Homo sapiens: one gene and its partners. The protein of the gene in region 1 interacts with the protein of each later gene in a biochemical or structural test. Each region holds a gene or a part of one and is shown in the gene's direction. Other genes may lie near its edges.

Region 1 (5,610 bases):
CAAATTTTTGTACCTAAACCGCTCATTCTCTGAGACTATTTTTTTCCTGTGAACATTGTATACATTTCATTCAAGATACGGATTCAACAATTTGGAGAAACTTTGACTCAGTGCCAAGCATTGCTAGATATTTTCAGACATACATTGTCACTCAAATTAATTGATGTCAGTGTTGGTTTCTGAGCAGTAATTCAGCACAGAATTGATGTGTTAAAAACAAATGATTGAAATGGTTCACATGATGGCCTCCGTCTTGTACCTTGTAGTATCTTCATTCACTCACACTTTATTTCAAGTAAGTGACCTGACATGACTGGACCTGTGCCAAATTCTTATCAATATTGGGAAGAAAAAAATGCCCAACATGCCGACCCTGCTGATAAAGGATGAGTGGGGTCGTATCTGCATTTAGTGGAAGCATCATACCACCCATATTGAATTGTATAGCATCTCACATATTTTAAGTATACTTGTAGTCATATCTAGCATCCATAAGAAATACATGAGGATCTTTTTTCCGATTTTATAGGAAAAGAAACTGAAGTTCAGTATTTGCCAGTAGGGCTTAACACAAAACTCATTCAGTTTTGGACTCTTCAGCGCTTCATTAAATAAAATACCATTTTGCTTGGCACAGATAAGGATGTTTTTTACAGTGTTACAGTTTTCGTACACACTGGTAACTTTCTTAAAACCATCATGATGTGTTACCCAGAATGTTTTAACTTTGAATATTAGGTAATAAGAAATTAGTAATTATTCAATAAGTATTAATTGAATTGACTTGGATGATCATCGTCATTCAAGAGAATATTTTCCCTAAGTTTGTAAGTAGTGCTATATTTATGTTGACTTTTTAGTTTTACTTTATATGTTATTAATATGAGTATTGTTAACCTTGCAGAATGGTCGATGTAGGGGGCCAAAGGTCAGAGAGAAGAAAATGGATACACTGCTTTGAAAATGTCACCTCTATCATGTTTCTAGTAGCGCTTAGTGAATATGATCAAGTTCTCGTGGAGTCAGACAATGAGGTAAGTGTTCTTTAGACAGGCAATGGATTATCATTTTATTATCTGATACAAGTAAATGATAGAAAGTAGGGTGTGGGGAATGGAGTGAACTTACTTCTTTGCTTTCTTGAAATTTGATTTTAGGACTTTTAAAATAACCAAAAATAATCCTGTGGTAAGCTCTTCTGTCAGATGTGTGAGCAGGTCTTTGTGTTCAAATCTAATTAGAGCCTATTTGATACTTTTTAACACTATGCAGAGGTTCTGAAAATGAAAATAACATGGAAATCCTAGGCTAATCATCAGATCATTTTATAGTCTTCCTCCTACAGGATAGAACTGGGAGTGTTGGAGTGAGTCATCCTGTTTTGTTTTGTTTTCATTTTGTTTAAATCATTGTTTGTGTGATGGGTGTGTCCCAAAGAGTACTCAAAATCTCTCTTGGCAAATGTGAATGACTTCGCAGCTGGGCTCTAAATCAGTTCATTATGAACCATGGAATATCTTGGTGATGCGGCCTTTCTGCTCTTATAGAATTCTCTAGGCTGTTGCATAATTTTGTCTCTATTAAGCAGTGAGCAGTTGAAGAAGTATCCTTAATATGCCTGTCTGGAGAACAATTTCAGTATTGTTATCTCCTCCCTGTTACAGGGAAACTTAATAGGTGTAAATGTGGATTTTCAGGATGGTAAAGACCTGACGATGAATCGATTATGGAATATATTAAGGGATGTAGAAATCTGTACTTCTGAGCTGTAGTTGTGTGCATGTGTATGTGTGTGTTGGGGGAACGGGGAAGACACCATTGATATCCTGTTAGAGGCAGAGATTGCAGTGTGGTAGGTTAATAATAAATATTAAATATCCCAATAATAGGGTAGCAAAAAAGAAGGAAGTGAGAGATCCCCGTTTGCTGACTAAAATAGGATCTAGCATATTATGCTTTTAATACAGTACATTTTTTAGGTACACAAGAATTCCTGACTGGTTCTTTTAAATATTTTTCTGCCAGTATTAATATCTCCATTAAAATACATATCCAAGCTCCTATAGTATTTCTTTTATGTATAGGATTGATAAAGTTTCCGTGAACCAATGTCTATATAGAACCGAGAGTCACCTGTTCATGCATTTCGGAATCATTCCTGAGTTACAAGTATATTGGCTTTGGAGTTAACCAAATAACTTCTGTTTAAGAATGAGGCTTGTTTATCAATCAGTTGCCCCCAATAACTCTAAAGCAAAGTGCCTAAAAGCATGCTACAATATATGACAGTAAGTTACCAAGATACAAGGCAGTTACTGTCAGAATTTTAGCTATGATATCTTTATCTGTATATCTTTATGTCTGTGCTTGTTTGTTACATAATCCCTGGATGTAGTATTTTAAACATACTGCATATTTTGGGAGCAGATCTATTCTAACACTTCTGATTTTTTTGAATGTTGTGTCAAGACAAAAAAATATTTTGAGGGCTTCCCTACTATATGCTGGGTACCAGAGTATCTAAAAAGACACAAAAATGGGGAAAAAAATCAACTCTGCCCTAGAAGACCTTATAAACAAGATATGCTTTTGGTCAGAATAAGCCATAGGGGGAAAGGTAAGCCTTTGTTATGTAGGTTGTCATTTCTCTTCTTTAATTTGCCATCCAGTAAAATAAAATTTGCATTTATCAATTACACAAGAGATGTAAGAAGCAAATGTGAATTTATTTCTGATGTTTACATTATAGCTAGAGGAGGACAAGTGTTTATCAATACACATTTTCCACAAGATAAATGCATTATATATATATGAAGAAGTATATGTCATGATGTAATACTTATCAATTTACCACTTCAAAATTATCAAAATAGAAAAGAAAGTAGAATCCTTTGGCAACTCATCAGCTAATTCAGTTCAACCGAATTGAATCTGGTTCTTCAGTTATCTGAACATTACAGATCATTTATTCCATTTTTCCTCAGACATAGCTAATAGTGACTAGATTTTTATATAAAAGTATATTATGTTAATTAGAATAAAATGGCATCGTTTTTATTATCATGTGTCATAATTAAAGTTCCCACAGTAACTTGACATTCAATGTACAGGTACTAAGAACGTCTAAAAATATTGTCCCAGTTCCTTTGATTCCTGTGGTGATGTCTTATGCTACTTTTAAATAATTACAAATTAAAATAATAAAGCTATCATTTTTTCATTAGGACTCCCTAATCACTTGTGAATCTTTTGAAAGTCTAGGTAATTCTATAAGATGAAAGTCAACTTGTACGGTGTTCCTTTCTGAGACCTCTAGTCAAGCCTGATGATAGTATGGGATCATGAGAAAAGTGCTGTTCATTAATTCCTTCATCCATATTAGCCACAGCTATCACTGTCTGTAATTAGGAAGTACTGTCAAAAAAATATTTTTTAATGTTGGGATGTAGTCTCATTACCCCTTTTTTTCCCCAGTTGTACTAATGTATGATAATGTCATTGCCTCTCAGCTTCCTTAATCATTAAGAAAATTCAGAACTACAGAATTCTAGTTTCCCCAGATTTTTTGGTTTTGGTGAGACAAAACTGAAATAAACTCCAGAAACATTTTGTTCTTGGTTTAGAAGTCTGATGTTCATAACTTTAATCCAAAGCAGACTTTGTTGTGCCTCCCTCCCTTGGTATATATTTGTGAGAAAAACCTAGGAATGGATTCTGACAGCTTTTCTTTCTATCCCAGGAAACTGTGGAAAATGCATTGCAGACCACAGACAAAAGCAGCTAAGGGAAGCATTTTAGATTATTGCTTTTGCTTTTTAATATTTCTAAAACCTTATAAATCTTCATAATTTTATGTAGGTCTGCTTTTGTCTGCCTAGATTCTCAGCCTTTCTATTGTTTGGGGAATGAATTTCTTTTTTCCTTCAAAGAAGGAAATACATTATCAAATAGTGGCTAGAATACCCAGGGTGGTAGAGCTGTGTTGATTTGCGTATTCCCTTTACTGTCTTATTGATGTGTGTATTCCCTTTGCTGTCTTATTTTCCCTGTGATAACACACCAGCATGGAATCCACTATTCTGCTGTAATCCTTTCATGGGTATGTTATTTCAGTGCTCCTGAAAGCCCAAAGCACACAATAAGACATGCTTATAACATATTTTAGTTTATCAGTGTGTATCCAAACACTGCCTTTTAATCTTTATTTTTCTGATTTTCTGTTTCATGAATATCTGAGCACTACTACAAAGATGTTTTCTCAGACATTGTCTCAATGACTGTCTTCCAGGCTAAGCTCTTTATAGAATCTCAAAGACTGAGACCTTTTTCTCCTCCATGTCCTCTTTGAATGTGAGCTTTGAATTTATTAATCATCTTGAAATGGTCATGAGGAATTATGTTATCATTTTATTAAAACGTCAAGATAGTTCTCCCTACCCTAGGCCCTCCTTGATCAAGGTGGATTCCCTGACCTTGGTTTCCATAAACATGTATTCATCCTTCAAACCTGATTTTTGAAGTTGCTCAATTGATAAAAGGAAAGCATAGACGTTTATAATACCTTAGCACTTTATACCCAAAACTTGCTGAAGCTGCTACTCATCAGAATCTACCAGCTGACCTCACCGTGGCGGGGACAGATCAGGTTTGCTGGTGTGCGTCATAACGATGAGGTTACAGGAATGAAGAGATGAAGGCCTGTGGCCAAGGTCACTGAAGGCCAGGTCCCCTGCCCTTCCAGACCAGCTTTCTTTCCCTTCCCTCATAGTGTCTTCTAGATGTTAGAGACAAACTTAAAGAAAAAGCAAGAGGAGCTATAAGGCAGCAAAGAGGGTGGAAGTAGAATGAAAATCCTGCCCTTTCATGAAGGAGTTGAAATAACTCTCCTCTACCTCTAAGCTCTTCTTACACCAATTGGTAGTAGTAGACCAGCCAGAGATCCTTTACCAGTCATTTAGAGTTCCTGTATTGCTCATTTGATTTTGAACTATCTTTAAACAATTAGTCTAAAATATGCATTTCCTTTGGATCCGTCTCTTCTGGTAGGTTTTAAAATGAAGCCATTTTGAAGTTACTCAGCTGCAATCAAAATTTGAACATTTTCTTTAAAAGTGTGAAACATGTACTTTGTTCTGCTCTAAAAATTGTTGAGTGAGCTTTTGGGAATTTTCTTCAGATAACATTCAGCTTTGCGGGGAAAACCTGACTAAAAATTGAGGAGAAAAAAACTCAAATCGCAAAGGAAAGACCTAAAGAACATTTATAAGTAGTTAAAAGTAAAAGCTTAGGTTAAGATATCTGGTCTCTGATCGTTAATTGAATTGAATCAAGCCCGCCTTTATCGAATCTTAATCAAATTAGGCCTTTGGTACACTTGGCTTGGATTCATGACCTGATTCATAAGGCTATTCCTGAAAGATGCCTAGCATTTTAATATTTAACCTCTTTCCTCTTTCCTCATTACTTTGTTCATTTTCAGTCACTTGTCCCTTTTTTAAACTCCTTCTCTCACCTTTCATTCTTTGGCTTTTTTTTCTTCCCTCATTATTGTACTCCTTCTTCATCTCTTTGTTCTCCTTGCTTCCCTTACGCTAGAAGGAAGTTTTCTGA
Region 2 (3,500 bases), on another chromosome or scaffold:
TTTAGGTTATTATTATTTTTTAATCTGGAACTTAAAATGGTTTTCCGGTATCGAAAGCGCCAAGACGGAAGTGATTCTGCACATCCCTGAGGATCCATCCATACGGGTACTCAGGCTCACCCTGCATTTGTTTCTCAAGCAGGCATTACATTTGCTCGGACTTTCTTATAGGAGAGAATTCATGTTTCTCATCGACGATCTGATGCATTTTGTAGGAATGATCCTAAATACTATTTAATCAAGCAGAAATAATATACTCATGTAGTACAGGATTTCACTTTCTGAAATGTATACGCGTCAGTTAACTAAGGCGATCCAGTAGCAGTAAGCTGTTTTCCTTTGGACACCTTAACTGGGGTGTCAGACCTGTGTAGGCTGGGGAAAGCCACTTAGAGAAGTAGCTGCCTAAGGCCTAGAGCTATAGGGGCTCCAAGTGGGGCAGATAGAGAAGTGAGCTGGCTAGCTAATGAAATTAGGGAGCCATCTCTGGTGTGTGTCCCAGGCAGTCATGTGGCACAGACTGTGACTGGCGGATATCTGGGAGTGTGCGTTCTGGTGGCTGCAGGAAAGCCTTTGGTGAGGACTGGACTGAGGCCCAGGAAGCTGAGCATTCCCAGGAGTTTCACCCCTTGCTTCTGTGGGCACCTCTGACGCTGCCTCACCACTTACACTGGAAACCATGAAACAGGCCTTCCTTGTGGTATTTGTTTGGAAATACTGATCAAAGTAATCTTCCTGGATTTAGAAAAAAATGATTAGACAATCATTTTAGTTAAATAGGAATTTCTAGATACCTGGTCATAACCCTTCATTCTGGCTGAAATTAAATGGTGTTTCCCCCATGACTTTGTTTCCTAAGGCAGCTGTTGACAGGGGAGCCCAGATTATCTTACACCTGGAAGTTCTGATACTACTCACAGTTTTCAGGTGTTCCTTTCAAAAGGTCAAAACAGCCTGGATGCGATGACTCATGCCTATAATACCAGCATTTTGGGAGGCCAAGGTAGGAGGATTGCTTGAGGCCAGGAGTTTAAGACCAGCCTGGGTTACATAGCAAGACTCTGTCTCTACAAAATATTTTAAAAAGTAGCCAGTTGTGGTAGTATCTGCTTGTAGTCCTAGTTACTCAGGAGGCTGAGGCCGGAGGATCACTTGAGCTCAGGAGTTAAAGGTTGCGGTGAGCCACAGTCACACCACTGTACTCCAGCCTGGGTGACAGAGCAAGACCCTGCCTGTAACAAAAACAAAAACACAAAAAACACCAACCCTCAAAACACTTAGGAATATTTTCTTCCCTCCATGGATTTAGCTAGAGAACACATGTGTTCTTTAAGGCAATAACATTTTATGATTTTATTTCCGAGCAACTTTTTTGCTCTCGGAGATTATAAAATTACTATTGATATTGATGGCAGTGGTTCTTAAATTTGGGTGCATACCAGAATTACTGCAGGAGGTTTTAAAAATTCAAATTCCTAGGTTCTGCCCCTTGTACTTCTGAGTTACTCAGCCGGTCCAGGGCCTTGCTACTCAGACTCCACACATGGGATCATGTTAAACATACAGCAGAAGCACAGGCCCCTTCTCAGACATAGAGTCAGAATCTGTTTTGTTGAGGCCCCAGGTGACGTGTATGTATAAACGAGCGGAGCGTCTTCACGTCTGATATGCTCCCAAGGCTGCTGGTTGGTGGACCAGACTTTGAGAAGCTTGGTCTGTGAATCTGCATTTTTCATTCTGATACAGTCAAGAAAACTGCCTATTATTTAGCAACTTCTTAAAAAGTTAAATACAGATGTACCGTATGACCCAGCAGTGTCCACCCCTGGGTATCTACCCAAGGAAAATGAAAACGTGTCCACACAAAGACATATATGCAAATGCTGATAGCAGCCTTCTGCATAATTGTCCCAAACTGTAAACAGCCTAAGTGTCCATCATCTGGTGAATGGATAAACAGATGTGGTTTATCCATACCATGGAAGATGACCCAGCAGCAAGAAGGCATGTAGTACTGGCCCACGCTCCAGCACCATGACCTTGACAACATTATGCTAATGAAAGAAGCCAGATCTGAAAATCCACATCTTTTATGATTCTGTTTGTATGATATGTCCAGAATAGGCAAATCTGTGGAGACAGACAATAGATTAATAGTTGCCTGGGGATGGAGGTAGAAGTAAGGATTAACTGTAAAAAGGTGTGAGGAATTCTGTAGGGGAGATGAAAATGTTCTAAAACTGGATTATGGTGATGTTGCACAACTTAGTAAGTATACTAAAAATTCAAATATGTACCTACAGTAGGAGTATTATAAGTAAATTATACCCTGATAAAGTTTTTTTTTTTTTTTTTTTTTTTTGGAGACGGAGTCTCACTCTGTCACCCGGGCTAGAGTGCAGTGGTGGATCTCCACTCACTCCAACCTCCAACTCCCAAATTCAAGTGATTCTCCTGCTTCAGCCTCCCGAGTAGCTGGGATTACAGGTGCCCACCACCATGCCTGGCTAATTTTTGTATTTTTAGTAGAGACAGGGTTTCACCATGTTGGCTGGGCTGGTCTTGAACTCCTGACCTTGTGATCCACCCACCTCGGCCTCCCAAAGTGCTGGGATTACAGGCATGAGCCACTGTGCCCGGCCTACCCTGATAAAGTTTTTTTAAAAATCATGTTAAAAAAAGAAAACTGGCTGGGTACAGTGGCTTATGCCTGTAATCCCAGCACTTTGGGAGGCTGACGCAGGCAGATCATTTGAGCCCAAGAGTTTGAGACTAGCCTGGGCAACACAGTGAGCATGGTGGCATGCGCCTGTGGTCCCAGCTACTTGGGAGGCTGAGGTGGGAGGATCACTTGAGCCCAGGAGGCAGAGGTTGCAATGAGCCGAGATAGCACCACTGCACTTCAGCCTTCAGACAGAGAGAGACCCTGTCTCAAAAAAAAATAAAGAAAACCTCTGTTCCAGGGTAGAAGGAGCAAATGAGCTTGGAGCTTGGAGCCAGGTTCAGGCTTCAGGTTTCAGTTGGCCTTTCATAGTTCCACCAGATTATGCCTGTTGCTTTCCTGGATAAATCTTTCAAAAACCTGTGTAAATCAGTGGAAATCATATTAGTCTTTCAAGCCTTTCCGATGGCCTGAAGTACTAAAATGGCTGTGATGGTTGTTTTACAGGAAAAACATGCAGAGGAACAAACAGGTAGCCATGGGCAGGAAAAAATTTAATATGGACCCTAAAAAGGTAAGTGAGAAAGAAGCGGGAAGTGGTCCATATTAGATGGGGTTTTTTTATAGTGCTCAGATAGACCCTAAAAACGTTTTTTTCCAAGCGTTACAGTTCATGTTGCCGTTTTGTAGAGCAAATGTTATGCACTAAGCCCTTGTTCCTAAACTGTGACTCCCCGGCTTTATAGGTCACTTAGCAAGTATTTATTAAATATTCCAGTGCACCCACACCCATTTCTTCCTGTGCCCTTTCCCCTTCTTTTCAACTGTTTCCCAGCAA
Region 3 (3,500 bases), on another chromosome or scaffold:
ATTGCTGCCTTAATTCATTTGCACAATGCATGATTGTATGGCCAGTGTTCACTGACACCTTTCCTACAGAAGTATCAATGAGCCCAGGCATTACGTAGAGCCATGTGGAGAAGAAAATAATTCATACCTTCAGAGGAGCTTCCATTTTAGTGGGGGTTGATACAAAGCACCCAGAAAGTAAATGCTTGAGAATAGTTCACAAGTAAGAATTAAAATATAGGCCCGTTGTTCCATAATGAAATCCTATAATTTGGCCATAAAACTAATATTTTTAATTATTTGCATAATTGGATTAGGGAGCAAGGGTAAAGCTGATAGACTTATTTGAAAATATTACTTCTGGGTTTAGATGAGAAAGTGCTAGATACTTCACACAAGTTAGTAGCTAGCCCCAGAATCATCTTTTTATCAAAGAGATGCAGTAGTTTTAGTCTCAGGAGTGATGGTATATCCACCCAGCAGTTTATCACTCAGTCCCATCTGCCAATCCTACTTTTACCTATCCCTACCCTTCAGTCCCCACCCCACACCTGAGTTTACCAACCCCTTCAGACCCTCAGTGTTTCATTCCCAGCAGGTTCTCCCTCTTCTCCTTTTGCTTCAGTTGTTAATATGTAGTGTCCAACATCACAAAGTCCTTTAGCACAATCAGAACTAGGAATTTATTTAAAATATAGGTATGTAATTTACGTCAGTGCTAGAGAGAAGTTTTAATGGAAACGTTGTTTCTAGCTCTCCACTGAACATTTCTACATGGTTGTCATGTAGGCACCTCAAGCCCTTCAAGTCCTAAAATATATCAGAATCTCCCCACCAAATCTCCATCTCCTATGTCCTGGCCCCATTGAATAGAGTCACCATCCACTTGGTCATCTGAGCTGAAACAACAGGAACTCTCTACTTACTACTCTCATTCTCCAACCCCTTTTCCTCCCAGTGAGTCATGAGATCTACCTCAGAAATGTTGCCTTTTCTTCCCACAACCTCAGACTTAATCCAGCTGTCTGTCTCCTCCCCCACACACTATTATGATGACCCCCCTAATGACTTGTCTATCTGCCACCAATTCCAATGTGTCTATCATGCTGCTGCCAGAGGTACTTTCTTATAAAACAAACGTAATCAAACACTCTTTATAGGGTAAAATCTAAACTCCTTATTTTGGCATTTAAGACATTTTTGACTATTGCATCCCAAACTACCCTTGCAGCCTTACCTCCTGCCCCTCCTTCATTGAACCTCACCATTCCCCAAACACTGGGCCCTTTCCCGGCTTCATGAGAGCACAGAGATAGAAAAGATGAGCTGACACAATCCAAAAAGGTTTAAAAAGATAGAGAATCACACACGTCAGTGGGACCATTCAGAGCTCTTTACAGTCTCTTTTATCTGAAATGCTCTGTGCCCATCTGCCTAGTGCAGGGCCACTCACTGACACCTCACTTGACAGTGCCCTCCCCAGGCAGCCTGGTCAGTGCTTCATCTCAGGAGCTGCCTCACTTCTTTGTTCATAATTCTCTTACAGCATTTACCTCATTCTGCTCAAAATGACTTTTGCATATATTTGTTTTCCGTGCTCCTCAAAGGCAGCAGCTGTACCCAGTCTTCCTTACCTCCCAGTATATGACATAGTTCCTGTCACATAGTCATTGAACAGATGTTGAAGACATGAACTCAGTGTGCTCCTCCAATGCAGTTAGGGCAATTAATCCAGATGTGGTGGGCTGCAAAGATCACTGGACTAGGATTCAGGAGACCCATGTCCCAGGTCCAGCTCTGCCACTAGATAAGTGACCTTGGATGAGTCATTCAGTCTCCTTTATTAAAGAAGGGGGTTGGACTAAATGATCTCTCAGACCCCTTCCAACTTTAAGTTCTATGATTCTGACCCCATTTCTTGGATTGGGAAACACATTTCCTCCCTCATAGTATTCAGGAGCCTCAATTTAGCCTGTCAGACGTTCACATTTCCCAAGCAAAGCTTTCAAACACTTCGAAGTTGTCTACTGAGCTAGCCAGAGCTCTTCATTAGGCTCCTGTTGGCTTATCCATTGACCACTGAGCTGTTCTCACTCCTCCCCAGGAGATTTCACTGTGTCTGTAACACCATTACACTACTGTGTGGCTGCCCCTTCCCAGGAGGGAGCCCTTCTTTCTGTTGGCCTAAGGGACAACTGTGAGGAGGGAGTCATTTCCCCTCCATCCAAATCCCACCAACATTATAGCTGCTGCCATGTGGGTTTTTGCTTATGGACATGTTTTTGGGGGGTGATGCCCATTTCTGTGATAAATAAGTTTTAAGCAGTTCATGGGGCTCTTCAAGGCCACTCTTAAGTACACTGCTGACCTTTCTAGGGATGGGAGGACTGGAGTTAGCAACTCAACAGGTACATTCACCATAATCTCCATGTAATAAATAAGAGCCTATGAAAAGATTAAATAAATCTTTCCTAATGCTTTTTGACTGGCTTAATCAATAATTAATCATCTTTAGATGAGGCTGTAACTTGTGGAGTAGATATAATTGGATTAGCTGAAAAGCGGCAGTTGCGGAGCTTTGAAGAGATTAAAATGGCTGTCAATCCCATAATTAAACTGCCACAAACAAAAGCAATGGTGTTTTTTAGAAAGGAGGAGGAGGAGGAAAGAAAGAGTGAAAGAGAGAGAGAGAAGGAAAGAAAAGTCGGGGAGAGAGTTGGGGAAGGCCAACTAATTTGAAATGAATCAACATGTACTTACATATCACTAGAGACTGAGGCAAAATCAAAACCGACAGATTTATTCCATTGAATGAAGTGTATGCATATCAAATCAGCCATTTAATTGTATGCTCCAACCACTGGGGCAGGTGAAATTTTGGCAGCTTCAACTTGTCTAAAACAAAACCAATCCACCAAAAAAAAAAAAAAAGGTTAATTATTCAAAACAGAAGAGACCTGCTCCTTGTCCTGAGCCCATTTAGACCTTGACTTTTCATACTTTTAATTGGCTTAGTAGGTTTGGCCTGTGTGAATGAAGTCTTTTATCTCCCTCTTCCCTCTTTTTCTTTCCATGCCCCTTTCATCTTTCCTATTACAAACACACAGAGAAAGCTCAAGGGAAAATACTTTGGTTTTTAAAGACTTTTCTTTTTAAAAGGTTGTGGATTTGGGTGGGGGGGAGGGGTGTGTGTGTGATGCTGGTGAATACTTTTTTTTCTCTCTCTTTTATCTCTTTTTCTAGAGAGGAGTTGCTTAAACCAATGGGACTAAAACCTGATGGGACAATAACGCCTTTGGAGGAAGCACTCAACCAGTACTCTGTCATCGAAGAGACCAGCTCTGACACAGACTAAAAGCATCACCTGCTCAACTCTCAATATTGCTTTATCAGCATCTTTTCTCTGTAGCTCCAGGGGAATCTTTTCTCTAAAACATTTATGCCCTTGCTTTGGCTAGAAACACATTAACTGGTTTACTCATTGAGAATCCAGCATATTTAAGAGGTGACCCTGTGTTTTT

What was found. The genes of interacting proteins can lie anywhere in the genome.
Region 2: the proteins of GNAQ (region 1) and CYTH1 form a complex in vitro, tested with the Homo sapiens proteins (one study listed by BioGRID).
Region 3: the proteins of GNAQ (region 1) and RIC8B form a complex in vitro, tested with the Homo sapiens proteins (one study listed by BioGRID).

What each region holds. Positions count from the first base shown.
Region 1 is NC_000009.12:77,789,887-77,795,496, reverse strand, and holds part of GNAQ (guanine nucleotide-binding protein G(q) subunit alpha), read left to right. Parts: intron 1-904; coding exon 905-1,034; intron 1,035-5,610.
Region 2 is NC_000017.11:78,702,274-78,705,773, reverse strand, and holds part of CYTH1 (cytohesin-1), read left to right. Parts: intron 1-3,169; coding exon 3,170-3,236; intron 3,237-3,500. UniProt on the Homo sapiens protein: Promotes guanine-nucleotide exchange on ARF1, ARF5 and ARF6. Promotes the activation of ARF factors through replacement of GDP with GTP.
Region 3 is NC_000012.12:106,882,682-106,886,181, forward strand, and holds part of RIC8B (chaperone Ric-8B), read left to right. Parts: exon of another isoform or gene 1-2,763; intron 2,764-3,222; coding exon 3,223-3,334; 3' UTR 3,335-3,500.